Linked DNA regions of Homo sapiens: all the other regions are linked to region 3. The links come from fine-mapping of genetic effects on gene expression. A gene starts in region 3. Each other region holds a variant in brackets. All regions are shown on one strand. Distances are from middle to middle. Region 1 holds the start of WBP1L (WW domain binding protein 1 like). Region 2 overlaps SUFU (SUFU negative regulator of hedgehog signaling). Region 3 holds the start of SLC68A1 (solute carrier family 68 member 1). Region 4 holds the start of ACTR1A (actin related protein 1A). Region 5 overlaps SUFU (SUFU negative regulator of hedgehog signaling).

Evidence for each region.
Region 1: its variant is fine-mapped to the expression of SLC68A1 in whole blood (TOPMed, PIP above 0.99).
Region 2: its variant is fine-mapped to the expression of SLC68A1 in prefrontal cortex (BrainSeq, PIP 0.95).
Region 4: its variant is fine-mapped to the expression of SLC68A1 in whole blood (INTERVAL, PIP 0.90).
Region 5: its variant is fine-mapped to the expression of SLC68A1 in whole blood (TOPMed, PIP 0.98).

The regions. Positions count from the first base shown.
Region 1 is chr10:102,741,521-102,747,542 of GRCh38, reverse strand. SFXN2 (sideroflexin 2) reads right to left here. Exons shown (of 12, transcript NM_178858.6): 12 at 4,051-6,022. WBP1L (WW domain binding protein 1 like) reads right to left here and starts at 3,595. Exons shown (of 4, transcript NM_001083913.2): 1 at 3,400-3,595. The coding sequence starts at 3,489. RefSeq lists enhancers at 2,729-2,958, 3,899-3,948 and a silencer at 3,459-3,618. The variant G/A (reference allele first, on the strand shown) is at 3,471.
Region 2 is chr10:102,525,397-102,531,587 of GRCh38, reverse strand. The region is part of intron 2 of SUFU (SUFU negative regulator of hedgehog signaling); the gene reads right to left. Among named protein-coding and RNA genes, the nearest start is that of SUFU, 25 kb to the right of the region's middle. The variant G/AG (reference allele first, on the strand shown) is at 2,627.
Region 3 is chr10:102,458,699-102,464,889 of GRCh38, reverse strand. SLC68A1 (solute carrier family 68 member 1) reads right to left here and starts at 3,495. Exons shown (of 10, transcript NM_024789.4): 1 at 3,440-3,495. LOC124902493 (a long non-coding RNA gene) reads left to right here. Exons shown (of 3, transcript XR_007062270.1): 3 at 2,830-4,097. RefSeq lists enhancers at 2,413-3,095, 3,096-3,779, 3,907-3,976 and a silencer at 3,417-3,636.
Region 4 is chr10:102,497,420-102,503,610 of GRCh38, reverse strand. ACTR1A (actin related protein 1A) reads left to right here and starts at 899. Exons shown (of 11, transcript NM_005736.4): 1 at 899-1,011. The coding sequence starts at 964. It also overlaps a transcript of SUFU not described here. RefSeq lists a silencer at 501-570 and enhancers at 921-1,020, 2,415-2,915. The variant G/A (reference allele first, on the strand shown) is at 2,009.
Region 5 is chr10:102,572,522-102,578,712 of GRCh38, reverse strand. The region is part of intron 3 of SUFU (SUFU negative regulator of hedgehog signaling); the gene reads right to left. It also overlaps the pseudogene RPL23AP58. Among named protein-coding and RNA genes, the nearest start is that of TRIM8-DT, 68 kb to the left of the region's middle. The variant C/T (reference allele first, on the strand shown) is at 2,814.

The DNA of each region.
Region 1 (6,022 bases), 280 kb before region 3:
CTCAAAAACAAAACAAAAACAACAACAACAAAAACAAACATTCTGGTTAAATCTAAACAACCAAAAGAAACTCTATGTATCTCAATGATAATTTAACTGGAGGAAACAAACGCCAAGGCTGTCGGAGCCTTACTATTTGGAGCATCTACTGTTTTCTCATTCTTTTTTTTTTTTTTTTTTTTTTGAGACGGAGTCTCGCTCTGTCACCAGGCTAGAGTGCAGTGGCATGATCTTGGCTCACCACAACCTCTACCTCCCACGTTCAAGCGATTCTTCTGCCTCAGCCTCCCGAGTAGCTGAGACTACAGGTGTGCCACCATGCCTGGCTAATTTTTGTATTTTTAGTAGAGACAGGGTTTCACCATGTTGGCCAGAATGGTCTTGATCTCCTGACCTTGTGATCTGCCTGCCTTGGCCTCCCAAAGTGCTGGGATTACAGGGGTGAGCCACCATGCCCAGCCTTTTTCATTCTTTATAGATTTAAGGATTCACGTCTGTGAGTTGTAATGTCATAACCTGTAGGAGAGTTAAGTCTAAGTTCCTAACCACAGAATGAACTAGCTGATGAACTTTCCAGGGCCTGCCTGCATAAACAAGAAATGGCTGTTTCAGTGCAGAGCTGGTAACAGGGAAAGCAAGTTGCCTAGTATCATTTATTTCTGATGGTAAATGTGTATGTAAAAAAAAGATTGTGCATGTAAAAAAAAGATTGTATTGTAAGTAGATCAATTTTGTGGGAGAAATGCAATAAGGTACCAATACCATTATTCGATACAGAATGAGTATAGTAAGTCCTCCTGAATTCAAAGTTAGCTGGACTTCATTGTTGAATTAAGGACCATGGGTACTTAAAGTATGCCCTGTGCCAAAATGGCCTTGGGATTTTTTTTTCCTTACTGATTTGTACAAGCAACCCCTTCCCCCACCCCCCCCAAAAAAACCCAAAAAAATACACTGACTAAATTGCGGTGGATTCAGAGTTAATAATTATATAGTAACTTGCATTCCGAAGGTTAAAATTCAAAACAGAAATCTCACTATAGATATCTAGTACTCCCAGACAGAAAGAGACAGGAGTATAAGGTGGGGGATGGAATTGTATAGGGAGCGTCAGGAGTGAGGGTATGTGGGGGCTGGTTAGGAAGAGGGCCACTGCTCATTACGAAAACTTTCCCTTCTCTGCAGGAATTGTAACCGTGTAACAGCTGTTGGTCAGTGATAGCATTCATCCAAATGGAACAAAGTACAAAAGACACCTGTCCCCAAAATTAAGTATTAGAAGTGCCACAGATATAAGAAAGCAGCCTGTGGTTTGCAAACTGCAATTAGAATATAACATTAACAATCCCCTTCCACATGTTCACAACACCTCCCAGGCTCCACGACCTGGTAGGAACCTCCACTTTCCATCATCCCCGTTGCTGAAAAAGTGGATCTAGTTCCTATCTTTGACCAGCCCATCTCCAAAGGCTCTGACATTCCTAAACCAAACCTCTACCGATGTTATTTATTGGTTACTGGGGACAGCCTTTTCGAGATACTTACAGAAACAGACATGTGCAAAGGAAAAGTAAATTCTGTATTTACTATATTCTATATTTTGTTGTCAATACCTATACTTAACTTTACTGGTCCTGAGGGCTATAACATTTCTAGTAAACAAAAAAAATATATTTCTTCTGCCAGTTTATGATTTCCACTGGAAAAACAACCCCAACAAAGGCTAAAACAGAAGGGTCCCAACCCTCGAAAAGGGAATACACTGGGCTAGAAAATGAGCTACATTCCTTTCACATGGTATTTCTAGTATACACAAACATATCCTGAGGAAAAATTAGACACTTCAATGCATAAATAAATTGTGGTTTACAGATAACAGAATGTTACTTGGTCATGAACAGGAATGAAGTACTAGTACATGCTACGATGTGGATGGGCCTTATAAACATTACGCTAAGTGAAAGGAGCCAGGCACAAAGACCACATATTGTAGGATCCCGTTTATATAAAATATCCAGAATAGATAAATCCATAGAGACTGAAAGCAGACGGGTGGTTGCCAGGGGCTGGGGGAAAAGGGAGACAGAGAGTAACTGCTTAGTAGGGACGAGGTTTTCTATTGGGGTGATGAAAATGTTTTGGAACTAGATAGAGGTGGTAGTTGCACAACATTGTAAGTGTACTAAATGCCACTGAATTGTTCACTTTAAAATGGTTTTTGTCATGTGAATTTCAACTTATTTTTTAATCAGTATTTTAAAATAGAGGATAATGGGCAAAACAAGATGTATTTGTGAAAAGGCAGCCCTAAAACTCCTAGGGAAAAGATAAGTATTTTTGCTGGCACTCAGTTTCTGCTCTTGTTCACAACACAAGTTCAAGCGCTAAGTTGTATAAACTTTGCCACTACGCTATGCGTCTATGTGTGTATGCCTTTCTGAAAAAACGGGGAAAAGAACAGAAAGTGAAGAAAAAAGAATCATAAAGCTTTGCCACATGCAAGGAAGGAGGGGTGATTGCCCCCACTGCACCCCACCCAACTTGGCACCAGGAGTAACGCTCCCATTAGGGTTTTGAAATGCCAGCTGGAGCTGGAATCAGCACAAGCAAGCTTCTCTGCCTGGATAAAGAGCAAGCCACCCAGCAAGAAAAGCTAGGGTGCTCCATTTGCTGCCCATATTGGCATCAGAACCACCCTCTGGTCAAAAGCCCTGAGCTGGCTCAGATCAGCATCCGTGACTTGCTCTCCCAGGCCAGCCAGCCTAACAGCAAGAGCTTGTTACAGCTCAAGTGTGCTCCTCCTCCTGAGGGGTTCCACTCTGTTTCATCCCACCTGCCTTCTGAGAGTCCTCCCTCCAACCAAGTGCGCCATGGCTTACAGATTTTAAAATGGGGCCAAGTCTCTCCCAGGAACATAGTAATTTTTTTTAAACGTACTAAGATGCCCTCGGAACTTTCCCCAGTCCATCCTTAAAGAAATATCCTCAGGATCCCCTCCCTCACAGGCCAACTCAATAGCCTGTGTACCCCTACACACACAGACGTACATACTGCATTACTGCCTGGGACACCTGCTCCACAGAGGGACACGAATAAGGCCCACATCCTCAGCTTGGCACCGCTATCCAGCCACAGTCACCCCAGCCCACCTAACCAACCTGCCGTCTCAAACGCCCCTCACTCGCTTGGCATCATGCCTCTGCCACCTCCTTGACACCAAAACTGTCACAGGTGTCCCTCAGCTAAATACCGACGCCCCTTTAGATCCTGTCCACGCCAGGCATAGACGCCCCTCTCGGGACCCCTCAACTCTTGGCAACAACACTCCTTCAGACCCCTCCAGCCAGGCCTCGACGACCCCCAGGACCCAACATGGCCCAGACGCCCCCTCCCCCTTACCTGCGGGGGTTCAGCCCTGGCTGACAAGGGGCTGGGCAGCGCCTGGAGGAGCAGGAGCGCCATGCCACCCA[G/A]GAGCCTTCTCCTCTCCATCCCCCTCCTGCTCCTGCTCCTCCGCCACGGCGCCGCCACCTCCCTCCTCCTCCTCCCTCTCCTCCTCTACCCTCTTCTTCCTTCTTCCCTTCTTTTCCTGTTTGACGCTCCCCTCCCGCTTCCGGCTCTGCTCCACCCCGCCCCGCGCAAAACACCCTCCCAGACACGCGAGAGACTCTCCAGTTCCAGCGCTTCATTGGCCTTTGCCCTTTGTCCATTGATCAATGTAGCTGTCGATCAAATATAAGTCCCGCCTTCCCCTGAAGACGAAGCGATGCAGCCAATAAAAAGTAGGAGGAAGCCGGACCATCTTGAATGCTGCGAAGAAGTGTAAAATTCGTCCCAACCCGCAGAGAGTGGCGGAAGCAGCTTCATAAGGGGGCGGGGCCACCCAGGTGGATGGAAAAGTCTATTTCTGATGTAGCCATCTTGAGTGTGGCGGAAGTACTAGTTTTCCAGTTTTCCACATCAAAAAAAGAAAAAAGGTTTAATGTTTCTCAAGGGTGTTGGAAAATAAATTATTCCTGAAAGGTAACCAGGCGCTCCTGAAGAGGAAAACAATTGCAATGTAAAAATATTTTAATGTCTTTTGTCTTGAAGCACAGCACTATTACCAGGATGCCTCTCTTGGTCTCAACTGCCCAAATAGCAGCTTAGGTCCGTTTGAATTCCCTAGAAGATAGTACCTTTATCTGAGGCATAGTGCTTCGTCACCCCAAGTTCGACGGACAAAATTCTGGTTCTACTTCACAAATTGCTCTGAAATCCATCATCCATTGCTTCAATCCATGTTCTTCTAGCTAAATACAAATGGCTTCCCTGCTGCCCTGCAAGTTGACAATTCTTCCTCTCAAATTTCCGCCACACACTACAACCATACCACATTAAACCAAATATTACTATATCATGGCCTCTTCTTTTAAATACTTCATCTACCTACAGAATAGAGAGTCCAAACTTCCCAACACGGTCCTCTCTGTGACTTCGTCCCTGTCTACTTCTCTTTATCTCACCTCTCACCACTACATTTTCCCACACATTCCACTCACACTGACCATTGAAGAGATGCCCAGTAACTTCATTTACATATTACAGATACAGTTCCCTGCTTACAAACTCCTAGCCCCATCTCCTTGCTGCTTCTTCTGGATTCTTGTAACACTTATATCTGCGTGCCTGGTTTGCAGTTTTTTGTACAGCATACCAGGTCTTTCTTCTTCTTCTTTTAAAGCCTATAATATCCTGTACAAGGCTCAACCAGAGCTTGATCAATGTTGGTAAAATAGCCAGGTGTGGTGGCTCATGCTTATAATCCTAGCCCTTTGGGAGGCTGAGGCAGGTAGATCCCTTGAGCTCAGGAGTTTGAAACCAGCCTGGGCAACATGGAGAGAACCCTGTCTCTACAAAAATAAAAAAACTAAATTAGCCAAATTAGCCAAGCATGGTGGTGCACACTTGTAGTCCCAGCTACTTGGGAGGCTGAGGTGGGACAATCACCAGAGCTAGGGAGATTGAAGCTGCAATGAGCCTTGATTGTGCCACTGTACTCCAGCCTGGGCAACAGAGTGAGACCCTGTCTCAAAAAAAAAAAAAGGCCAGGTGCGGTGGCTCCTGCCTGTAATCCCAGCACTTTGGGAGGCCGAGGTGGGCGGATCACATGGTCAGGAGTTCGAGCCTGGCCAACATTGTGAAACCCAATCTCTACTAAAAATACAAAAAATTAGCCAGGCGTGGTGGTGCATGCCTGTAGTCCCAGCTACTCAGGAGGCTAAAGCAGAAGAATCGCTTGAACCTGGGAGGCAGAGGTTGCAGTGAGCCAAGACTGTGCCACTGCACTCCACCCTAGGTGACAGAGTGAGACTCTGTCTCAAAAAAAAAAGAAAAAAAAAAGTTGGTAAAATAAATGGACAAAGGAAGACCCATGGCAAATAACACAGTTGACTTTAGCAGTCAATTTCCTCTCAAAAACCTGTCAAAGTGTTTTACAGCCTGGCCCAGTCTAGCCCACATCTGAGCCCAGAGGAAGTTGTTCTTGGCTTAAGTGTTGGAAAAATGGGAAACAGGTAAGAGTTAAGTCAGTCTTCCCTCAGCTTAAGAAAGTCCATAGTTCTGCCTTTATCTTGATCCTGCTTTTCCAAGTACTATAAAAAGTGACACGTATTTTTGCCAATCTCTCGTTTCTTAGAAATTTATCCATTCCACAAGTCAAGCTCCTTAGAGGAGAAGTAAAAATTGAGTACTAGGGAAGGACCAAATTATTTTCATGGCACAAGGTCTCTAATTCCTGGCCTCAAAAAGTTGTAAGTCTTCCACATAAAGGCTAGGTTTCATCATCACTAAGAAACCCCAGGTGGGATGTAGTGGCTCACGCCTGTAATCCCAACACTTTGGGAGGCCAAGGCATGAGGATTGCTTGAGGTCAGGGGTTCAAGACCAACCTGGGAAACATAGTGAGGCCCTCTGTCTACAAAAAATTTAAAAATTAGCTGGGCATGGTGGCATGTACCTGTAGTCAGGAAACCTTTAGGATTCT
Region 2 (6,191 bases), 67 kb before region 3:
CCTTGCTGTATTGCAGCTGCCTATCTCTCCCATCAGGACAGGATTTACCCCTTTGTACACCCCACTGACTGGCACAGGAGTGCTCAGTGAAAGCAGCCGAACAAAGGAATGGGCATCAGCTCAACAAGAAAGGTGACCTGTCCAGCAAAGCCAGTTGGGACTACAAAGGCTGGGCGATGGGAGTAATGAGGCTGAACCAGTCCTGCAATTTTGAGCTTCTGATGTTGACTCTGGGGGTGCCTGGCCCCTTGGTTAAGACTCCAAGGCTCTCCAATTTTTGATCTGTCAGTTTACACAATTAAGAAATTACTATTTTTATTTTTTATTCTTTTAGAGATAAAGTCTCACTCTGTTGCCCAGGCTGGAGTGCAGTGGCATGATCGTGACTCACTGCTGCCTCAGCCTTCCAGGCTCAAGTGATCCTCCTGCCTCAGTCTCCTGAGTAGCTGGGACTACATGTGTGCACCACTACACCTGATTACATTTTTTTTTTTTTTTTTTTTTTGGTAGAAATGGGTTATGGGGTATTGCTATGTTGCCTGGACTGGTCTCAAACTTCTGGGCTCAAGCAATCCTCCTGACTCAGCCTCCCAAAGCGCTGGGACTACAGGTGTGAACCACCATGCACAGCCAAGAAACTACAATTTTCTTGATAATTACTATTATCATTTATTACAAAACCAGGAAAACCATATATAGTCCTCTATTTGACCACTGCTTTCTTGTTGGACATAAGGTTGCTTCCAAAGCTATGCCTTGGAAAATATTTTTGTGCATATTACCTCGTTTCCTTCCCATATTTGGGTTATTTCCTTGGGATTAAGAGTCACAGAAGGCCAGACATGGTGGCTCACACCTGTAATCCCAGTACTTTGGGAGGCCGAGGCAGTAGGATTGCTTTAGCCCAGGAGTTCAAGACCAGTCTGGGCAACATAGTGAGACCCCATCTCTATAAAAAATTTAAAAATTAACCAAGCATGGTGGCACAAACTTGAAGTCCTATCTACTCAAGAGGCTGAGGCATGAGGACCACTTGAGCCCAGGAGTTTGAGGCTGTAGTGAGCTATGACTGTGCCACTGCACTCAGGCTGGGCAACAGAGTGAGTCCCTGTCTCCATTAAAAAAAAAAAAAAAAAAAAAGATTTAAAATAGTGGACAAAGGTAAAGAGAAACTAAATGCCAGCCCAAGGTTATGGGCTGAAGGACTTAGGCAGAGTGTTGAGCCTGGCTTAGAGACAGGGAAGTTGGGAAGTGAGGAAGGCAGGTGTCAGACATTCTTAGTCTCACGATCTTTGGACCCTTTGGAGGTCTCTGGGTGGACTTAGGTGGAAACTGCATGAAATTATTAACATATTACTCCAGCATCCCAATAAGATGCCAGAGAGGAGCCCAGCAAAGTGGACGAGAATACACGCTGTGGAAGCAACTGAGCCCATCAAACCCCAGCTCCACCTTTCTCTAGCTGACTGGTGGGCAAGTTAACTTCCATGTGTGCAAGGCTCCTCATCTGTAAAACTGGGAGAAGAACACTCATCTCATAGGGTGGGAGGTTTTAGTGTGACAGCACAGTGTCTGGCACCTAGCAAGTGCCCTTCCACGGCAGTTAGTGTGCAACTTTCCTTTTTCTTTTCTTTTTTTTTTTTTGAGACGGAGTCTCACTCTGTCGCTAGGCTGGAGTGCAGTGGCGCGATCTCGGCTCACTGCAACCTCTGCCTCCCGGGTTCAAGCGATTCTCCTGCCTCAGCCTCCCGAGTAGCTGGGACTATAGGTGCATGCCACCATGCCCAGCTAATTTTTGTATTTTTAGTAGAGATGGGGTTTCACCATGTTGGCCAGGATGGTCTTGATCTCTTGATCTTGTGATCTGCCCGCCTTGGCCTCCCGGCTAATATTTGTATTTTTAGTAGAGATGGGGTTTTAGTAGAGATAAAGTCTCACTCTGTTGCCCAGGCTGGAGTGCAGTGGCATGATCATGGCTCACTGCTGCCTCAGCCTTCCATATTGGCCAGGCTGGTCTCGAACTCCTGACCTCGTGATCCACCCGCCTAGGCCTCCCAAAGTGCTGCGATTACAGGCGTGAGCCACTGAGCCTGGCTGCAACTTTCCTTTTCTTAGTACTCACTCAAAGCAAACTCTGCTCATCATTTATCCTTTAAAATATCAGCAGATGCCTCCAGCTTCCCTAACTTCTGGGCTCTGGATCTTAATCAGCCCAGTCCTTCAAAAGCTGCTTTCAGCTTCACCCAATTTCCTGACCTTGGGTCCCTCCCAGAACCTTCTAACCAGACCTGAGATTTCCTTTGTGAGATGCTTTGAGTCACAGCCATTACAACAGAATTCAGTCAACAACTACTAAATAAACAACTGCAGAGATTATTTTTTATTTATAATTCAAAATTACTGATACTTTATTAGACATTTGAAAATGGTGTTGGGTGACAACACAAATACTACTGTATGTAGCAAAACTTTGTAAAAATAACTTTTGAAATATGTTTATATGATAATATTCTGATATAGCTAAGCTTTTAAGCCTCCAGTTATAAAAACAAAATAATAGAAAAAAAACCCATAAATCTCGTTATATTTAATCAATTTTATATAATCTTAAAAAAAAAAAAAAAAA[G/AG]AAAGGAAAAAAGCCACATCAGCGAAGACTGCACTCTCATACTCTGACCTGGGAGTCCAATAAGGCTACAGTGCAGCAGCCACCTTTGAGTTGCAACTCTGGGTTATAGAAGCTTTCTTTGCGCTATACCCCAACCAACCAGATTCATGGAATGCATTTGCCCCACTCAAGTAGATGGTTCCTGAGACATTTTGCTGGGAGCCAAAGACCATGTTCCCACAGCATTCCTCAAGTTCAAAAACAGTGGCTCCCAGCACTGATTCGGCTGAGAATCCAGTCAAATAAACTCTTCCGGCTCCCAACACTTCAGGCAGCTTAACTCTGTCCTGGGCTTTCAGTGAGCAAAGGGTTTCCTGGAATAAGACACTGAATTTTATTTTTATTTATTTTTTGAGACAGGGTCTCACTCTGTTGCCCAAGCTAGAGTGTAGTGCCGTGATCACAGCTCACTACAGCCTTGATCTCCTGGGCTCAAGTAATCCTCCCACCTCAGCCACTGAGTAGCTGAGACTACAGACACATGCCACCATGCCTGGCTAATTTTTTTTATTATTTGTAGAAATGAGGCCTCACTATGTTGCCCAGGCTGGTCTTGAACTCCTGGGCTCAAGCAGTTCTCCTACCTCGGCCTCCCAAAGTGTTAGGATTACAGGTGTGAGCCATTGTACCAGCCAAGATACTGAATTTTAGAAATTCTAAGCCAAGGGCACCAGACCCTTTCTTGCAGGGTGGTAAAAGCTCACATTCAACCATCCCCTGCTGGACATCTGTTGCACCTTCTTCCATCTACTCCCAACCACCCCCAAACTCAAAGGTCAGCCAGCCCCCAGGGGACTCCTAAGCCAGCCTGGAGCGCTACAGGAATTCTGGGCCAAGGAAGAAGCCCAGTGCTTGGGTTTCTTGGCATCAATATGGTAGCTCCCACTCTTGGCTTTGGCTTAAAGCAACACCTTTACAAAGGTCTTCTTAAAAATAAAAAAAGACAGGCTAGGCCAATGGCGACAAGATCACAGTCTGATTTGGGAAGCGAGGTGCCCTCTGTGCCTAAGTATGCAGCTTGGGGACTTCTTACTGACCCAAGAGGCAAGGCATCTACCCAAGGGCCTTTTGTCCACCCACTCTCCTCCAGAACTCTGGGAAGCCAGCCATCCCAGAAGATCAAGAAACCTAAACAGGGCAATGGGAAGAAACAAATCTTTTTGGCATTTCAGTTCCCCAAGGGCAAGGACTGTACTTTTTGTGTGTTCTGTACATGAATACATCATGTCATGGCTGAGCAATGCTAAATGGTAATAATATTCCCACTGCCACCCAAAGAGATAATCAAGCCGAGACATTCAACAAGATAAGATGGTATTAAAAAGCAATGTGCCTCCCTCTTAGTCACTATCAAAGTAGATTCAAATATCTTCATGGCTTTGAATGTCATGATGTACTATAAATATACATATATATATATATATCTTAATGGTATTTCCTTTGAGCCACTTTTGCTACTATTTCCTTTTTGGGGAAATAAAACCGTCACTCAACTCAGTTCTCCTGTCTTCATACTAAAGCTGAGGTCCCACACTGGAATGCTTCCTAAAACCCCACTCCAGCCTCCATCATATCATCCTTTTTCTTTCCTCATCAGTCAACAAATAATTTATTGAATGTCGGCCGGGCGCGGTGGCTCACGCCTGTAATCCCAGCACTCTGGGAGGCCAAGGTGGGCGGATCACAAGGTCAGGAGATCGAGACCATCCTGGCTAACACGGTGAAACCCTGTCTCTACTAAAAATACAAAAAGTTAGCCAGGCGTGGTGGTGGGTGCCTGTGGTCCCAGCTACTTGGGAGGCTGAGGCAGGAGAATGGCATGACACCAGAAGGCGGAGCTTGCAGTGAGCTGAGATCGCACCACTGCCACTGCACTCCAGCCTGGGCGACAGAGCGAGACTCCATCTCAAAAAAAAAAAAAAAAAAAAACAATAATAATAATTATAATTTATTGAATGTCACATTCTTTACATTGTCTTCAAACTCTGCAACCTCATCTTGTTCCACTGTTCTCTCTTACCAAGCCTCAGATGCACTGGCCTTCTTTCTTTTCCTTAAACACTTCGAGGTCCGTGCTGCCCTCAGGGCCTTTATACTAGCTGTTTCACTGCCTAGGACCTTCATCAGGACTCCCAGCATTGTACAACTCCAGGGGGCAGCAATTGCACAGAATAATGTGAACGGTGGCCCTAGAGTTGTACAATGTGACAGCCCTGGCTGCCACCGGTCTTTGAGGTCTCAGTTCAAATCTTCAAGGAAGCCATCACTGATTACTGCTAACAGCATCCTCCCCACCCACCTCAACCACTACTTCTACCCATGTAAGCTCCAGAGTACCATCCCTGCTTTTTTAATTTTATTTATTTTTTTAAGACAGGGTCTCACTCTGTCACCTAGGCTGGAGTGCAGTGGCACGATCTTGGCTCACTGCAGCCTCTGCCTCCTGGGCTCAAGCGATCCTCCCACCTCAGCCTCCCAAGTAGCTGGGACTACAGGCACGCACCACCATGCCTGACTAATTTTTGTATTTTTTGTAGAGATGGGGTTTCACCACATTGCCCAGGCTGCTCTCGAACTCCTGGCTCAAGTGATCCACCCCCCCGTGGCCTCCCAAAGTGCTGGGATTAGAGGCATGAGTCACCACACTTGGCGCCCTGCTTTACTTTCATTTTTTTAAGAGACAGGGTCTCCCCATGTTGCCCAGGCTGGCGTGCAGTGGCTATTCACAGGCACAATCCCACTACTGATCAGCACAGGAGTTTTGACCTACTGGGCCAGGTCACCCCTCCTTAGGCAACCTGGTGGTCCCATGCTCCTGGGAGGTCACCATATTGATGCTGAACTTAGTGTGGACACCTGACTGGCATAGTGCATAATAGCCCAGAACTCCTGAGCTCAAGTGATCCTCCCACCTCAGCCTCCTGAGTAGCTGGGGCCCTGCTTTATTTTCAACACAGCACTTGTACTATCTAAAACTATATAAAATTTTTCATGTTTCTCCAATAAGAATATAAGATTCATGAGAGCAGAAACCTTGCCTGCTTTGCTTTCCATGGTATCCTCAGCACTAAGAAAGCACTGGATATTTAGGTAATGTGCTCTAAAAATTTATGAAAATAGGCCAGGTGCAGTGGCTCATGCATGTAATCCTAGCACTTTGGGACACCGAGGCAGGTGGATCACCTGAGGTCAGGAGTTCAAGACCAGCCTGGCCAACATGGCAAAACCCCATCTTTACTAAAAATACAAGAAACTAGTTGGGCATGGTACTGCGTGCCTGTAATCCCAGCTACTCAGGAGACTGAGGCAGGAGAATCGCTGGAACCTAGGAGGCAGAGGTTGCAGTGAACTGAGATCGCAAGATCGCACCACTACACTCCAGCCTGGGCGACAGAGCAAGGGTCCATCTCAAACCAAACAAAAAAAGAAAATAAATTAAGTGCTTGACACATACTAAGCACTGTGCCAGTTGCTGGGATGGAGGTACTCCCTCACCTCATAAAGCAAGGTTCAGGCCAGATACGGT
Region 3 (6,191 bases):
GCCTCGGCCTCCCAAAGTGTTGGGATTACAGGTGTGAGCCACTATGCCTGGCCCACAGTAGCCATTTTCTTTTTCTTTTTCCTCTTTTTTTTTTTTTTTTGAGACAGAGTCTCGCTCTGTTGCCCAGGCTGGAGTGCAGTGGCACAATCTCGGCTTACTGCAACCTCTGCCTCCCAGGTTCAAGCAATTCTCCTGCTTCAGCCACCCGAGTAGCTGGGATTACAGGCATGCACCACCACGCCCAGCTAATTTTTGTATTTTTAGTAGAGACAGGGTTTCACCATGTTGGTCAGGTTAGTCTTGAACTCCTGACCTTGTGATCCACCCACCTTGGCCTCCCAAACTGCTGGGATTACAGGCATGAGCCACTGCGCCCGGCCTACAGTAGCCATTTTCTTTCCATTTCTTTGAAGTTTGGTTTCATGATTTTTTTTTTTTTGAGACGGAGTCTCACTCTGTCGCCCAGGCTAGAGTGCAGTGGTGGGATCTTGGCTCACTGCAACCTCCGCCTCCCAGGTTCAAGAAATTTTCCTGCCTCAGCCTCCCAAATGGTTGGGATCACAGGCGTGCGCCACCATGCCTGGCTAATTTTTGTATTTTTTGTACAGACGGGGTTTCGCCACGTTGGCCAGGCTGGTCTTGAACTCCTGACCTCAAGCAATCCGCCCGCCTTGGCCTCCTGAAGTGCTGGCTCACAGGCGAGAGCCACCGTGTGGTTTCATGATCTTTAAAGATCAGTCACTAGGTGGGGCGTTGTGGCTCATGCCTGTAATTTTAGGACTTGGGAAGGCCAAGACAGAAGGATTACTTGGGGCCAGAAGTTAGAGACCAGCTGGGGCAACATCAATCAAAAATAAAAATCATTGACCTTTCTGCCAAATCCATGATTGAAATTGTCTTTCCAGCACCCAAGCTTTATGCCTTTTGCCACCTGGAATATCCTAGCCCCTCTTGTCTGCCATCCATCAAATTCCTTTCTAAATGCCACCTCCACACTTTTGTTCATGCTGTTCCTGTCACCTAAGATACCCTAGGATAACTATATACTATTCCTCAGCCATACAGGGTATGCTTGGCTTTTATATCCATCATCAGACCCCTTACAGCTCTGTTACTATCTGCATTCACGTTCTGTACATGAAGAAACCAAGGCTCTGAAGATTAAATAACAGGCCCAAGTTACAAAGCTAGTAGGTGCTGGAGTCAAGATTCAAAACAGGTTTTGACTAAAACAACAGCGTTCTCACTTCATCATCCCCCCCACACCCTGCCCCCATCTTATCAAATCCTGCTCATCCAGTGTCACGGCTTTCCCAAGCACACCCAATCACGTGTTCTCTCCCGTTTTCCCCCTTATCAGGCATCCAAATGCCTCCCTTCCCCTCCTCCAGCCCACAGGCTTCTTAAAAGCAGGGCTGATACCGGGCGCGGTGGCTCACGCCTGTAATCCCAGCACTTGGGGAGGCCGACGCGGGCGAATCACGAGGTCAGGAGATCGAGATCATCCTGGCTAACACGATGAAACCTCCTCTCTACTAAAAATACAAAAATTAGCCAGGCGTGGTGGCGGGCACGCCTGTAGTACCAGCTTACTCGGGAGGCTGAGGCAGAATAGCGTGAACCCGGGAGGAGGAGCTTGCAGTGAGCCGAAATCGCGCCACTGCACTCCAGCCTGGAGGACAGAGTGAGACTCCGTCTCTTAAAAAAAAAAAAAAAAAAAGCAGGGCTGGGTTAGTCCCGCCCTTGATCCCTGCCCTTTGCCTCCACCAGGCTCCCTCAGCTTGCTCAGTCAATCCCTGCTGGGTCGATTGGCCCCTAAAAGGTCAATATCAACAACATCCTCAGCCCTAGGGAACAGCAGCAGCAGTCATAGGAAAACTGTCATCTTCAGACCCCACTGTGCCCCTCCTAGCTCTGTGTTCTGCTTAACTGTGGGAGTCAGAGAGAAGGGGCAGCCTGGGAGGCTTGATGTGCCTCTCTGAGTAAGACACTAAAGCAAGGCAGCAGGTACAAAGAAGAATAGTGATCATAACAGAGGAACATTTATTAAGCTTTCGCCGGGTGCACAGCACTGTGCTAAGAGACACAGAAACAATCTGGGAAGAGAGCTCAGAGCAGCGCGGGAGAAAGGGGCCACATCAGGAAGGGTTTTGTAAACCTTGTGCAAGATTCTATGCTGAGGACAACAGGTGGGGCGCTGGGGGTGGGGAAGTGACAGATCTGTTTGGAAGAAGCCCTCTAGCAGGTGTCAAAACTCTTCCCCTTCACCCTACCAGGCCCCTGGTAGGTAAAGACTAGAAAGGGATGGAAGCAGCAACATCTCCCTGATTTCTGAACCAACCTATGGTGGGTGGGGGAGGTTGATGAATTTAGTGGCGGAAACCAAGAATGCCGAACTGGGCCCCTGGAGTGAGAGGTATCAGACTGTACAAGAGACATTAGTGCAGAGGTAAAAGCTAAGAAGAGGCATAATTTGGAGTCAGGAGCCCTGGGTCAGGTGTGAACATTATCTTTAACTTACTATCTGAGTCTATTCCTACATCTGTGAAGCAGAGAAAACAATTCCATTCTCTGCCTATCCTCAGGAATACCAAATGAACAAATGAACATGAAAGGTATAATATGTGCCCTTTTCTCAACAGGCAGCTGACCCCTGAATTGTCTGCTGTGTTTCCTGTTTCACTCTCGGGGTCTTGTCTTCCTGCCCAGTCTCCCCACAGCAGGGTCTAGCACCAGGGTTGGGGGGTGGGGGCCCATCCTCCTCCTCCGGCTGGAAATGAGCTTTCAACTTGTTGAGATGGGGACCTTCTCCCTCTCCCTCCCCCACAGGTCCCAGAAGAGGCGACAGCTTCACCTCAGGACCACCCACCCCTCCCAAGCCACTGAGGAGTTTGGGATCAGCCCAGGAGCTCTTCACTCAATAGCTGGTGCTGAAACACGTGTAGGGCTGCTCCCCACCGCCTGCACGTTAAAATCACCTGAGGAGCTGTGCAATAATACCGAGGCCCAGGCCTCACCCAGAACAGTTAAATCGGAATCTCTTCGGGCGGGCCCAGCATCGGTGTTTTTCAAAGCTCCCCAAGTGCCACCAGGGTTAAATGCCTTTATGCTAATGGCACGGATCCCGACCTGACCAGTGCATCCCTCGATCCCAGACCACCAGGGAGCTATTTGACCCACTGCATCCCTTTCCTCCAGACCCCCGGAGAGCCTTTCTGCGAGGATTCCACCCTTGCCCCCTTGAACCCCGCTTCTTCCGCCCGGACCACACAACTCTCCCAATCCACAATATGATCACCCCAAAGACCCCCGCAGATAGCCCCCATGACTCCCAGAGCGCAAAGCATTCCCCTCCCCCTCGGGTCTGTCGTTTGTGCCAGATCGGCCCCAGCCCAGCCCGCTCCTGCCCGCGAGCCCCGGCCGCTGGCCAGCGTCTCACCGCAATCGTAGCCGGCGAAGCCTAATCCCACGGCTGGCGGGAGCCAGGTGCGAGCCAATGCGCCTGCGCGCACTTCTAGGGCTTCCCCAGCCTCTCCCTCCGCCCCCGCCCAGCGATTGGCTCCGCGCGGCCCCCGGGCGCAGCTCCGGCAGGTGACTGCGCCTGAGGCTGCCGCCGCCATGTTTGTCACGGGCGCTTGCCCTTAGCGACCAAAATTAAAAGCGGACACTGGCAAATAGGGTCAGGTTGCCTGGATTCCTGACCGGCTCAACCCCTCTCCTTTACCTCCACGATAGCTTAATGTCATTTCAGTTGAAACCAACACGTTTTTTCTAAGCGCTCACCTTCCTTCCCTCCTTGCCTAGTACTCGTTGGGAGAACAAAGAGAGGTCAGCATCCTCCATTGAGTCTTGTGGTCTGAGCGGATGCACAGCTGCAGCCGACTTGGAGGTGTCAGCGGCTCGATCTGGGACTCCCTGATGCTGCATCATGAGCCCTTCAAGGGTGGACAGGTCCAGGTTGAGCTGTGGGCACCAGGGCTCTAGCCACAGGAGCCAGGGCTGAAGGTGGGAAACAGCCACCAGGGCCTGAATGAGCAACCATGCAGCACAACCTCTTTGTATTAATAACGGCAATAATAAAACCTAAGGAGTACTGAGTGCTTGCTATGTGCACCGTACTACATTCAGAACAACACGTGCATTCTCTTGTTGAGTCCTCACATCATTCCTAGGAGGTAGGCGCTTTTATCCACATTTTATATGTGAAGAAACTGCATTTCAGAGAGATTCAATGACACGCAAACAGCAAGGGCCCAGTCGAGGTGGAACCCGCTATCCTGACTCCCATAACAAGAGTCTTTCCTCTTCCCACACCTGCACAATCCCTCAAAATCAAGTTTTGTTTGGCTCAATGTAGGCTGTGGAGGATGTTTTATGTTTTCTCCCAATTGGCCTGTAAGCCTGGATAGGTTTTTGGGCAAGCAAACAGCACACATTCCAGCTCTGCCTGGTTCCCCTACCTTGGGACACAGGGCAAAAAGCCTGTGGCCTTTGCCTTATGGGGGACTTGGAACTCAACCCCTAGCTCCAACACTTCTTTGCTAAGGGACTTCTTTATTATTATTTTTTGAAACAGGGTCTTGCTCTGTTGCTCAGGCTAGAGTGCAGTGGTGGCATGATCTCAGCTCACTGTAACCTCCACCTCCCTGGCTCAGATGATCCTCTCACCTTAGCCTCCCAAGTTGCTGGGACCACCACCTCACTCCACCATGCCTGGCTAATTTCTAGAATTATTTGTAGAGATGGAGTCTCACTATGTTACCCAGGCTGGTCTTGAACTCCTGGGCTCAAGGGACCCTCCCGCTTCAGCCTCCCAAAGTGCTGGAATGATAAGCGTGAGTCACTGCACCTGGCTGGGACCCTCCTTTTGTGAGTCTGTTTTATGCTTTACAGGGATTTTTCAGACATTAAATGAGAAACAAGGGTGTAGGAGCTTTGTGAACTGCTCATCCTTATGACCTTCATTGATGGTTGTCGGCTAACTTCCTGCAACAGGAATGTTGTCCTCCTCCTAACAACCACAGCAAATGGTCCAATGTAGACGCCTAGTGTCCAGGGGCTACAGATTATTCAACCAGTTCCTGAGGAGCCCCCAGGGATGCCATGAACCTTGCCCCCAGAATCCATCTCCCACTAACCTGTCTCATTTCCCTCCTTCCCAATCTCTCTCTTTCGGACACCCTTCACACTTCCCATGTCACCCCAAGCCACACATACACGCACACACATACATACAACCATCTCTCTTCTAGACTTAGACAACTGCTGAAACTCCTCCTGATCCAGAAAGCCTCATGAGTAGAAGACAGGTGATCATTTTGTCCCTCTCCTCACCTCTTACCTCCATCTGTGCTTTCCTGGCTGTGAGAACAGAAAACCCAGCATTCAGCCTGGGGTCCGGCACACTGGGATCTCCATACATTTGCTAAAGGAGTCTCCCCGCCTTTCTATCTGTGGCCAGCATGTGCTTTTATTTCAAAGCAAACCCGAGTCTTTACTTAGCCCTCCCTGGGTATCCAGTGGGGAAATGGAAATGGGGAGGGCTGGCAGGGGCCAGAGCTGGATGTGACCCAGGAGAAAAGACCTTTGGTCCCTCACAGCCAGGCAAGGTGGCTCACACCTGTAATCCCAGCACTTTGGGAGGCTGAGGTGGTTGGATCACGAGGTCAGGAGATCGAGACCATCCTGGCCAACATAGTGAAACCCCATCTCTACTAAAATACTAAAATTAGCTGGGCGTGGTAGCGTGTGCCTGTAATCCCAGCTACTCAGGAGGCTGAGGGAGGAGAACTGCTTGATCCAGGGAATCGGAATTTGCAGTGAGCCAAGATTGCACCACTGCACTCCAGCCTAGCGACAGAGTGAGACTCTGGCTAAAAAAAAAAAAAAAAGAAAAACAGAAAAAAGAAAAAAAGAAAAGACCTTTGGTCTCTCACGTTGCACTTAATGCCCCACAGTTACACTCTGAGGCCCCTCAACCCTCTGATTATATAGACAACGTAGCCAGTTACCTTTTATGTCAGCATCAGGGCAGGGCCTTGTGATTCTGTCTGATTTCTCTTTGTGGTTGCCAGTCACAGAGCTAACTGGGAGGGGAAATGCAATGAACTAGAGGCCATATCACCTCCCTAACTCATTGAGCCATACCGGAGTCCCTGGACCATGGGACAGATAGATTGTGCACTCTCTGT
Region 4 (6,191 bases), 39 kb before region 3:
TAGATGATAATAAATCTAATGTTTTCTAGGGCTATTGACAAAAAGGTCCCTGAAATTTCAAGGGGGCTGGGGGAGAACATAATCCAGAGAAAAAAATGCACTGGGCTCATTTGAAAGCAGTGACACATAACCTCTCTTCACCTCCATTTTCTCAACCATCAGTGTCAATTCTAGCTCGTTATGAAAATTAAAGAGATACTCGAGCAGTTTCTGAAACCCTTAGATGATGTTTTAATGACCAAAAGATTACCTATACCAGTAGTTCCAATTGCCAATCTTCGGATCAATGTTAGCCTGTTATGCAGAAAAAAAGAAAATGCAAAAGGCAACGACAATGTACAGGTTTTTAAACTTAAAGCTAATTTTATGCAATTTAAATTGTTTTCCTTTGTTGTAGGAATATGTCCTCTCGCGTACGTGTGTTAACATTTCCTTTTTGTTAGAGTGTGAGGTGCTAGGAGATGTTTATTAAAGTCTTACAGACCCAAATAAAAACATGAGAACCTTATATTGTCTAAGGGAACGTCGGGGGGAGTGGCAGGGCTGATCTGCAAAATCCAAACATCCATGAATTACGACCAATCCAAACCGAACTACAGACAAGTACTCGAGAAGACTACATACCTCAGCATGCACTGCGAACTCCTTCAAAGGGACTACAGATCCAGGCATGCAACATGACCATCAACCTGTGTCTCTGGCTGTTTAATCTAGGGAGACCACAAATCCCAGGGTACTGCGCATTGGAAATGCGACTCCCAATCTTAAACTAGGCGGGCAACAAAGCAAGCTAGATCGCTAACCCAGGCGCAAAGCTTGCTGGGGATTGTAGTTCTTCAGAGGCGAGGTCGGGCCGCTCCCTCGCCGCCCTGAACCGGCGGCTAGACTGCGCATGCGTGTCAGTGGCGCTAGCGGCGGACCCGGCTGGGCAGTTCCTTCCCCAGAAGGAGAGATTCCTCTGCCATGGAGTCCTACGATGTGATCGCCAACCAGCCTGTCGTGATCGACAACGTGAGTTGCGTCTTTCCTATCTATAAGGGGACTTGGGCTCTCCTCCTCGAAAGGATCGCTTCCCGGGGTTCAGCCTGAGCCGCCGGCTCTTTGTCACTGGCCCGGCCTGTCAGGCGCGTTCAGCCACCGCCGCCTCCTTCCTCCCCTTATCACATAGTCCGCAGGCAAGGCGGCCAGCCAGCAAAAGTGGGATGGAGAACTCTGGAGTGGATAAAGGAAAGAGTTATAGTCCAAGCCAGTCCTTGGGCCCTTGGCTCTAGGGGCCTTAACCGCTGTGTGAGATTCCCGTCGCCCGCCCTCTCCCCCATTTCCGATCGCTCTATTGGTTGCTCTGGCTGTCCATCTTAGCCAATGATACCGCCTCTTAGCCTTGCCGGATGAGGCTAGGCCTCTGCGGTGATTGGCTCACGCCCCTGCCATTCTTCCTTGCCGCCATATTGTTTTCCCTCTTGAAGGGGCGGGGCAGTGCTCCAGGGCTGTGGGGATTGGCTTCCGGGACTCTGGGTGGTGGGGCCTAGAGGCGAGTGCCCGCCCGCGGGTGGAGAACGGCTAAGTTTTCCTTCGGTCTCAGCCGGCGCTGCGGCTTGGTGGTGTGGATCTGGGTGGGGCCCGAGAATCTGGTGCCAGAAACCGCTGTAGGATGTCAGCTATTACTGTGATTATAAATTACAAAGTTGGTAAAGGTCGAGAAGAAAGGAGAGTGACAAAGGAAGCAGAGAGGTTGTCCTCCTCTTTGGAACGCCTAGTTCTTACGGGGAAAAAATTACCAAACTTAATATTTGCCTGGCGCTCTAGCGCTTCCAGGGCGTTTTCACATACATTCGAGTTGGATCCTCACAAAAACTGGACGCATAGTTTAAAAGGAACTTTGATCTTCGTGTTACCGATGAGAAAACTGAAGCGCGAAGACGTAACGTGAGCCCAAGGTCACATAGCAGAGGTGCCCTAAATCCAGTACTTTATCCGTCATCCCTTTTGCCAGCACCACCATGCAGAA[G/A]CATCAATATTGACCAATAGAAAGAATCTAAATACTGCTCTTATTTTGGGGGGAAAGGAGAAAATTGTAAAACGACTGCATTTCTGCCTTCGATTCAAAGCTTTGGTCCCACAGAGATTGATCCCTGTCTGTGTCCCTTGTAGGTCCCTCCATTGAGGCAAAACTACCAGTTCCCTCTGTTGTAAGCTGACTCTGTCAGATTCCCTTTGTTGATTCAGCTCTTGGGACCTTAGGCATATTACAATGTTCTCGTTTAAGCTTCAGCTCTGTTAGGTAGATAGGAATTACTATCCCCAGTGTATGCAGGGATGTTAAATAACAGATTTCAAACCATCCAGTTTAGGAATTGAGGAGCCAGTCATCAGACTAAGATCCAGTTCCAAGTTGCTTGCTTTTTCCAATATATTTTTGTTGTTGTTTTCATTAAATTTTCCTTCTCTCCATGGGTATTTTGTTTTTATTATTCCCCCTTAGAAAGGGGCAGGATTGAGCTCAATGAGACAGCTCATTTTTTTTTTCTTTTTTTTTTTTGGAGACAGGGTCTCGCTCTGTTGCTGAGTCTGAAATGCAGTGGCGCGATCACAGCTCACTGCAGCCTCAACCTCCTGGGCTCAAGTGATCCTCCCGCTTAAGCCTCCCGAGTAGCTGGGGCTGCAGGCACGCGCCACCACCCCTGGCTAATTTTTGTATTTTTTGTAGGAAGGGTTTCACCATGTTGTCCAGGCTGGTCTCAAACTCCTGGGCTGTTGCGATTCTCCTACCTTGGCCTCCCAAAGTGCTGGGATTATAGGCCTGAGCCACCGTGCCTGGCAGAGACGCCTCTTTTTTTGGTGTGGGGGGGTGGAGGGAACAGGATCTCGCTTTGTCACCCAGGCTGGAGTGCAATTGTGCGATCTCAGCTCACTGCAGCCTCCGCCTCCAGGTTCAAGAGATTCTCCAGCCTAGACTCCCAAGTAGCTGGGATTACAGATGTGCACCACCACGCCTGGCTAATTTTTGTTTGTTTGTTTGTTTGTTTGTTTGTTTGTTTGTTTTTGAGACGGAGTCTCACTGTCGCCCAGGCTGGAGTGCAGTGGCGCGATCTCGGCTCACTGCAAGCTCCGCCTCCCGGGTTCACGCCATTCTCCTGCCTCAGCCTCCCGAGTAGCTGGGACTACAGGCGCCCGTCACCTCGCCCGGCTAATTTTTTGTATTTTTAGTAGAGATGGGGTTTCACCGTGTTAGCCAGGATGGTCTCGATCTCCTGACCTCGTGATCCGCCCACCTCGGCCTCCCAAAGTGCTGGTATTACAGGCGTCAGCCACCGCGCCCGGCCTAATTTTTGTATTTTTAGTAGAGATGGGGTTTCACCATATTGGCCAGACTTGTCCTGAACTCCTGACCTCAAATGATCCACCCGCCTTGGCCTCCCAAAGTGCTGGGATTACAAGCATGAGCCACCACACCCAGCCCAGATACTTCATTTTTGAGAGGATCTTTTTGTCTCCCTCACTAGACTATTAAATCCTTGTGGAAAAAGATGATATTCTCCCACAGGTTTAGTGGTGTTGGGAAAAAAAATTTAAGAAAGATGATATTCCTTTAGTCTCACTTCACCCACTTCTCTCCACACACACACAGTATACCTAGGGTCTGGCACCTCTGTGTGCTCAATAAATGTTTTTTCATTGGATTGATGGGTGATTGGATGAATGACTGAATATCTCTATCAAAGTAACAAAGATATTCCTAAATAAAGAAAAGATGGGGAGTTTTCTCTAGTTAGTTACTGCAGATAATTGAGTAGGACTTTTTGTTCTTGATGTTGATTTTCAGAGAGCACTACGATTTCTGTCTTTAGCCAGGCTCTTTGTGCTTCTTCTGCCTTTTTCTTAGTTGTAAAAAGGAAAAATATATAGAAATTCAATTTCCTGTTTTCATCAGCAATGCAGAAGGAACAACCTGTCTATCCCACCAGCTCCTTTGCTTCTTGAATTGCTAGGCAGGAGTTCCATCTCCGGCCATTTTCTTTAATATCACTTACACTAATGCGTCTTAATTTTTTTCTTTCTCTTTCCTGGTAGTATGTTTCGAAATGCATTACAGCAGTGATGCATTTTTAGTTTCAAGATTTAAAGAATTGACTTGTCTTTTTTTTCCCCCTCTGGGAAAACATGTCCTTTATTATGCCAGTATTTCTGCCAAAAGGTGAAGTAGGAGAAACTTAAGTCATTTTCCTATTAGTATTTGCTGAAAATCTGCCACATTTTTACATGTGCGGTCTCAGGTAGTCCTTGTTGTTTAACATTTGGGGGGTCATTTTGTTTTTATTATTTTCAAGATGGTAGATGTATAGGAAACATTATTTGAAATACCTGAGACAACTTATTACATATAATGAGAATAATGTATCACTAGCTATGTTAACTCCATAGCTTAACATGTTGCTACACTTTATTTATGGGCAGAAGAGTATAATCAAAAGAATGCAGGAGAAAGAAAGCAGGGAAAGAGCCCCATTAAGTTCACAGCCTTTCCCAATCATAAGACAATTGTGACCACGTCTTTCATCTTACTCTGGCATCAAGTCATTTCATCAGAATTTAATGAGGAAAATGGAGGGGCAGGTAGGTGTGTGCTTTAATGACAACAATAAAGTGATAGGTATTTTTTTAATCACCCAAGAAGCTTTATGATGATAGATATTTTTTAAAACCAAATATAAGTCATTTCTTCCCAAAGACATAGAGAATAGTGTAAGATAGGAGCAGCTCCTAGGCCACATTTTGAGGACTACACTTTGATCAGAATACTATGTTTATTCTGAAACTCAAATTTTTCCTAAGATCCAGGCCAAATGTGGTGGCTTACTCCTGTAATTCCAGCATTTTGGAAAGCCAAGGCTGGAAGATCGTTTGAGCCCAGGAATTGGAGACCAGCCTGGGCAACATAGTGAGACTTCATCTCTACTTTAAAAAAAAAAAAAAATTAGCCAGGCTTGCTTGGTGGCATGCACCTGTAGGAGGCTGAGATGGGAGAATCACTTGAGCCCAGGAGTTTGAGGCTGCAGTGAGATCGTGCACCTCACTCCAGCCTATTTAAAAACAAAAACAAAAAAACTCTAAGTTTACAGTTTTGCCTGAACCTAAAATGGATCAACATTCCTGTCAAACTTAAAACTGTCTTTGTGACTATATGGACCTAAATGCAGGCTCTTCAGAAGTTCAACAATAAGCTAAGCATTTGTTTGTTTTGCTTTGGATGTTGTGCTGCTTCAGCCCCCTTTAAAAAAAAAAAAAGAGAGAGAGAGATACTTTAAACACACAGAAAAATTCGGTGTGGTATATAACAAGCACCCAGGTAGCATGTGTCTACTACCCAGATTTAGTAAATATTGATGTTGCCATATTTGCTTCAGTATTTTTTTTGCTTTAGTGTTCCCATCCACCTTCATGTTTTAAGGAAATAAAACATTACAGATATAATTGAAGACTCTTTGTACCCCTCCACAACCCTATCTTTTTTTTTTTTTTGAGACAAGGTCTCACTCTGTTGCCCAGGTTGGGGCTCATTGGCACAATCAAAGCTCACTGCAGCCTCAGCTTGCCAAGCTTAAGCAATCCTCCCACCTCAGCCTCCCAAGTAGCTGGGACTACAGCCGTGTACCACCTGCTCAGCCTTTTTTTTTTTTTTTGTAGAAATGGGGTCTCCCTGTGTTCCCCAGGCTGATCTAGAACTCCTGGGCTGAAGCAGTCCTCCCACCTCAGCTTCCCAAAGTGCTGGTATTACAGGCATGAGCCACTGTGCCTGGCAACCCTATCCTTTCTCTCTGTTTTACAAATAATCCGCAAAACAACCATCATCATAAAATTGTCCTCCTTTTATACTCTGGAAGATAAGTCAGGAGAATTGTGTTGTTCAAGGCCAGCCTGGGCAATACAGCAAGACCCCCATCTCTTTAAAAAAAAAAATTGTGCTCCTTTCCACCTATGATTTTTTTTAATTTTTAATTATTATTTGTTTTTAAATTTTTTTTAGAGATGAGGTCTCACTCTATCACCCAGATTAGAGTGCAGTGCTGCAGTCGTAGCTCACTGCAGCCTCAAACTCCTGAGCTCGAGCAAACCTCCTGCCTCAGCCTCCCAAGTAGCTGGGAGTATAGGAGGAGCAAGCCACCATGCCTAGATCCATCCATGATTTTATG
Region 5 (6,191 bases), 110 kb before region 3:
TTTTTTGAAACGGAGTCTTGCTCTGTCGCCAGGCTGGAGTGCGGTGACATGATCTCAGCTCACGGCAACCTCTGCCTCACAGGTCCAAGCAGTTCTCCTGCCTCAGCCTACCGAGTACCTGGGACTATAGGCACGCGCCACCATGACCAGCTAATGTTTGTACTTTTAGTACAGACAGGGTTTCACCATGTTGGCCAGGATGTTCTCAATCTCTTGACCTTATGATCCACCCGCCTCAGCCTCCCAAAGTGCTGGGGTTACAGGTGCCACTGCACCCAGACTAATTTTTGTATTTTTAGTAGAGATGGGGTTTCACCATGTTGGCCAGGCTGGTCTCGAACTCCTGACTTCAAGTGATCCACCCACCTCGGCCTCCCAAAGTTCTGGAATTACAGGCATGAGCCATCATGCCTGGCCCCAAGCCTCTTTGTTCTTTGTTTTTTGTTTTTGTTTTTTTTTTTGAGACGGAGTCTCGCTTTGTCGCCCAGGCTGGAGTGCAGTGGCGCGATCCCGAGTAGCTGGGATTACAAGCGCCCACCACCACGCCCAGCTAATTTTTTTGTATTTTTAGTAGAGACGGGGTTTCACCATGTTAGCCAGGATGGTCTCGATCTCCTGACCTCGTGATTCACCCGCCTCGGCCTCCCAAAGTACTGGGATTACAGGCATGAGCCACCAGCCTCTTTGTTCTTAAAGCCAAAGGGACTAAGGAGGTTTTAAACTCGTAGTCCTGGCCAGGCACGGTGGCTCACGCCTGTAATCCCAGCACTTTGGGAGGCCGAGGCGGGCAGATCACGAGGTCAGGAGATGGAGACCATCCTGGCTAACATGGTGAAACCCCATCTCTACTAAAAATACAAAAAAATTAGCCGGGCATGGTGGTGGGCACCTGTAGTCCCAGCTACTCAGGAGGCTCAAACAGGAGAATGGCGTGAATCCGGGAGGCGGAGCTTGCAGTGAGCCGGGATCGTGCCACTGCACTCCAGCCTGGGCAACAGAGCGAGACTACGTCTCAAAAAAAAAAAAAAAACAACTCGTAGTCCTATATACATTTCAACCAAAGAATGCCAGGAGGGCTGGGTGCAGTGGCTCACGCCTGTAATCCTAGCACTTTGGGAGGCTGAGGTAGGTGGATCACTTGAGCACAGGAGTTTGATACCATCCTTGGCAACATGGCAAAACCCTGCCTCTGCAAAAAATACAAAATTTAGCCAGGTGTGGTGGCACATGCCTGTGGTCCCAGAGGCTGAAGTGGGAGGATCACTTAAGCCCTGGGAGAGGGAGGCTGCAGTGACCCATGATCACACCACTGCACTCCTGGGTGACAGAGTAAGACGTGAGACTCCATTTCCAAAAAAAAAGAAACAAGAAAAAAAAATCCCAGGAAATCCTTTGAAGCTTTAAAATCCAAGACTAGCCTGGCCAACATGGTGAAACCCTGTCTCTACTAAAAATACAAAAATTAGCTTGGCGTGTTAGTGGACGCCTATAATGCCAGCTACTCAGGAGGCTGAGGCAGGAGAATCGTTTGAACCTGGGAGGCGGAGGTTGCAGTGAGCCAAGATGGTGCCACTGCACTCCAGACTGGGCAACAGGGTGAGACTCCATCTCAAAAAAAAAAAAAAAAGAAAAGAAAAAATCCAGGACATGCTTCTACTCCTCCCATCTTCTTCCTGAAGAGACCAGTTAAATCAGGAATGAAAACCCATTTAGACTGGGTACAGTGATTCACACCTGCAATCCCACAGCTGAGGCAGGAAGGTCGCTTCAGACCAGGAGTTCAAGACCAGCCTGGGCAACACAGTGAGACCCTGTCTCTACAAAAAAATTTAAAAATTAGTCAGGCATGGTGGTGCACACTTGTAGTTCCACAGCTACTTGGGAGGCTGAGGCTTGAGGATCATTTGAGCCAAAGCATTCCAGGTTACAGTGAGCTATAATTGTACCATTGCACTCCAACCTGGGCAACAGAGAAAGACCCTGTCACTGCAAAACAAAACAAAACATTTAGTTGCCATGGACCTATAAACTAGTATGGTCACTTTGGAGGACCAAATGGCAGAATCTATTAATATAAAAGGTAACTTCCCTTTGACCCAATCATTCTACTTATAAATATCTACCCTAGAGCAAAACATGTCACAAGGAGGAATGAATAAGGATGGTCACTGCATCTTTGTACTGTTTGTAATACTGCAAAAATGGCAACAACCTAAAGGTGCATCACCAGGGGAATAGTTAAATTATGGTTTATTCATACAATAAAATCACAGACAACAGTAAAAAAAATTAAATAAAGATCTTCAAGACATACCGTCAACTGAAAAATCCAATTGTGAAGGGCAGTACAGTTTCATTTACATTAAAGAAAGAAAAAAAAACATAGAAACCCAAACCATTTCATAGGTACCCAGAAGAAGGTGAATACATAGAAAAAAATCTGGCAAGCTGCAAGGACGCACACCAAATGGATAAAGAGGGTTTCTTTAGCGAGGGCCCTGAGATTGGGTGGGGTGGTCACAGAGAACTTTGACTTTATCTGTATAGTCTAAGTTTTTAACATCTGAGGTCAGTTGCAGTACCTCATGCCTGTAATCCCAGCACTTTGGGAGGCTGAGGTGGGTGGATCACTTCAGTCCAGAAGTTCAAGACCAGCCTGGACAACATACCAAGACCCCATCTCTACAAAAAAAAAAAAACACAGAAAAATTAGCGGGGTATGGTGGCATGTGCCAGTAGACCCAGCCACTCAGAGGCTAAGGTGGGAGGATCACTTGAGCCCGGGAGGTTGAGGCTGCAGTGAGCCAAGATCA[C/T]GCCTCTGCACTCCAGCCTGGCCAACAGAGACCCCGTTTCCAAAAAAAAATCTGAAATTTATTTATGTATTATCTATATACTTAATGTTGGAAAGATGATCCTCCTCCTTGACCCCTCTGCTATGTGGCACCAGCAGCCATCACACTGGCTACTGTGGCATCACTCCAAATGCAGTGGCACTAATCTGGACATGCCAGGAAGCTAGGTGGTATGATTTGAATGTCTGCCTCCTTCAAAAGGTATGTTGAAACTCAGTCTCCAATCTAGCAGTATTGAGAGGTGGGGCCTTTAAGAGGTGATTGGGTCATGTGGGCCCTGCCCTCATATATAGATTAATAAGTTAATGGATTATCACAGAGGTGGACAATGGGGGTAGAAACTGGTGGGTTTATCAGAATAGAGACCTGAGCTAGCAAGTTCAGCCTCCTTGCCATGTGATGTCCCTGGGACTCTGCAGGGACTCCTCACCAGCAAGAAGGCCTTCATCAGATGGGGCCCTTTAACCTTGGACTTCTCAGCCTCCATAACTGTAAGAAATAAATTCCTTTTCTTTATAAATTAGCAGTTTCAGATATTCTGTTATAAGCAGCAGAAAATGGACTAGAACATTAGGAGCCATCCTTGGCTGGCAACTAAAATGGCACCACTGGCATTTTCAACCAGGCTAGCTTTTTAAAAAAATTTTGAGACAAGGTCTTGCTCTGTTTCCCAGGCTGGAGTGTGGTGGCACCATTATGGCTCACTGTAGCCTTAACCTCCTAGGCTCAAGCAATCCTTCCACCTCAGCTTCCCGAGTAGCTAAGACTACAGGCACACCACCATGCCTAATTTTTTTTTTTTTTTGAGACAGAGTCTTGCTCTGTCACCCAGGCTGGAGTGCAGTGGCTCAATCTCAGCTCACTGCAACCTCCGCCTCCCGGGTTCAAGTGATTCTCCTGCCTCAGCCTCCTGAGTAGCTGGGACTACAGGTGCATGCCACCATGCCGGGCTAATTTTTTGTATTTTTAGTACAGACAGGGTTTCACCATATTGGCTAGGCTGGTCTTGAACTCCTGACCTCATGATCCGCCTGCCTTGGCCTCCCAAAGTGCTGGGATTACAGGAGCCACTGTGCCCGGCCTGTTTCAAGGCTTTTTTAGTGACGAAGATAAAATACATTTTTTTTAAAAGAAAGAGAAAACACATCTTTTGTTCATCTTGCTAATTAGAATCCAAATTTAAGAATATAACATTTTTACTTATTTGATTTTATATTTGTATCTTTTATTTATTTTATTACTGTTTTAGAGACAAGGTCTCACTGTGTCACTCAGGCTAGAGTGTAGTGGCACAATTACAGCTCACTGCAGGCTCAAATTCCTGGGCTCAAGCAATCCTCTCGTCTTAGCCTCTCAAACAGCTGGCACTACAAATGTGAGCCACAACGCCTGGCCATATATTTGTATCTTTCTAATCTTATGCTGAACATCTTGCTTTCTAACATAATTACTTATTTGCTTTATCCTATTATATCCATATACTAGTTTTAGGTTAAAGTCAATATTTTTATTAACAACATGATTACTGAAAACAGTTTTTTCTGTCTTTGTGTATATATTAGGGATATACAGACAAATTACTATAGTTTAAGATCTCTGTATATTGTTTTGACACCAATTTGGTATGCTGTGAATTTCACTTGTTTTATTTTGCTTCTGAGTTTTAGGAAATGTGGCAGACAGACTCTAAGGTGCCCCCATGGTCCCCAATCCCCTTGGTACTCAAGCCCTGTCTAATACTTTCCCCCAAGTGTGGGCGAGACCTATAACTTGCTTCTTGCTAACAGAATATGGCAAAAGTAAAGATATTTTAAAGATGTAAAGTAACATCCCAAATCATTTATTAATTTTTTTTTCAGTTTTAGTTGTAGTAAAATACATCAACATAAAATTCACCAATTTAGCCATTTTTAAGTGGCATTAAGTACATTCATATTGTTGTGCAACCATAAGAAGCTTCCATTTCCAGGACTTTTTTTCATCTTCCCCAACTGAAACTCTATACAGTAAACAGTAACTCCCCATTCCACTGCTTCCAACCCCTGGAAACCAACATTTTGCCTTCTGTCTCTATGAACCTAACTACTCTAAGTACCTTATGTAAGTGGAATCATACAATATTTGTCTTTTTGTGTCTGGCTTATTTCACTTGCCATAATGTCTCCTGGGTTCATCCATGTTGTAGCCTGCAGCATGTGGCAGAATTTCCTTCCTTTTATTAAGGCTGAGTAATATTCCATTATATGTATATACCATACTTTGTTTACCCATTCATCTGTTGATGGACACTTGAGTTACTTCCACTTTTTGGATGCTATGAAAACTGGTGCACAAATATCTGTTCAAGTCCCTGCTTTCAATTCTTTTGGACACATACCCAGAGGTGAGATTGCTGGATCATACAGTAATTCCATTTTGAACTTTCTGAAGAAGCACCAGACCATTTTCCACAGCAGCTGCACCATTTTACATTCCTATCAACAGTGTACAAGGGTGCCAATTTCTTCACATGCTTGCTAACATACTATTTTCTGTTTTGTTTTGTTTTTTCTTTTTTTGATAGTAGCCATTCTAACGGCTGTGAGGCCAAAGTAGATGATTTTGTGTTAATTAAAATGGAGGCCCTTTTCACAAGACGGTGCCGAAAGCAAAGAAGGAAGCTCCTGCTCCTCCTAAAGCCGAAGCCAAAGCAAAGGCTTTGAAGGCCAAGAAGGCAGTGTTGAAAGGTGTCCACAGCCACAAAAAAAAGAAGATCCGCACGTCACCTACCTTCCAGCGGCCCAAGACACTGCGATTCTGGAGGCAGCCCAAGTACCCTCAGAAGACCAACCCCGGAGAACAAGCTTGACCACTATGCTATCATCAAGTTTCCACTGACCACTGAGTCTGCCATGAAGAAGATAGAAGACAACAACACACTTGTGTTCACTGTGGATGTTAAAGCCAACAAGCACCAGATCAAATAGGCTGTGAAGAAGCTCTATGACACTGATGTGACCAAGGTCAACACCCTGATTCAGCGTGATGGAGAGAAGAAGGCATATGTTGGACTGGCTCCTGATTACGATGCTTTGGATGTTGCCAACAAAATTGGGATCATTTAAACTGAGTCCAGCTGGGTAATTCTAAATATATGTATATCTTTTCACCATAACAACAACAAAAAAAAGGCTGGGCATGGTGGCTCACTCACACCTGTAATCTCAGCAGTTTGGGAGGCCAAGGAGGGTGGATCACGAGGTCAGGGGTTCAAGATCAGCCTGGGCAAGATGGCAAAACCCCATCTGTACTAAAAATACAAAAAGTAGCCGGGTGTGGTGGCAGGTGCCTGTAATCCCA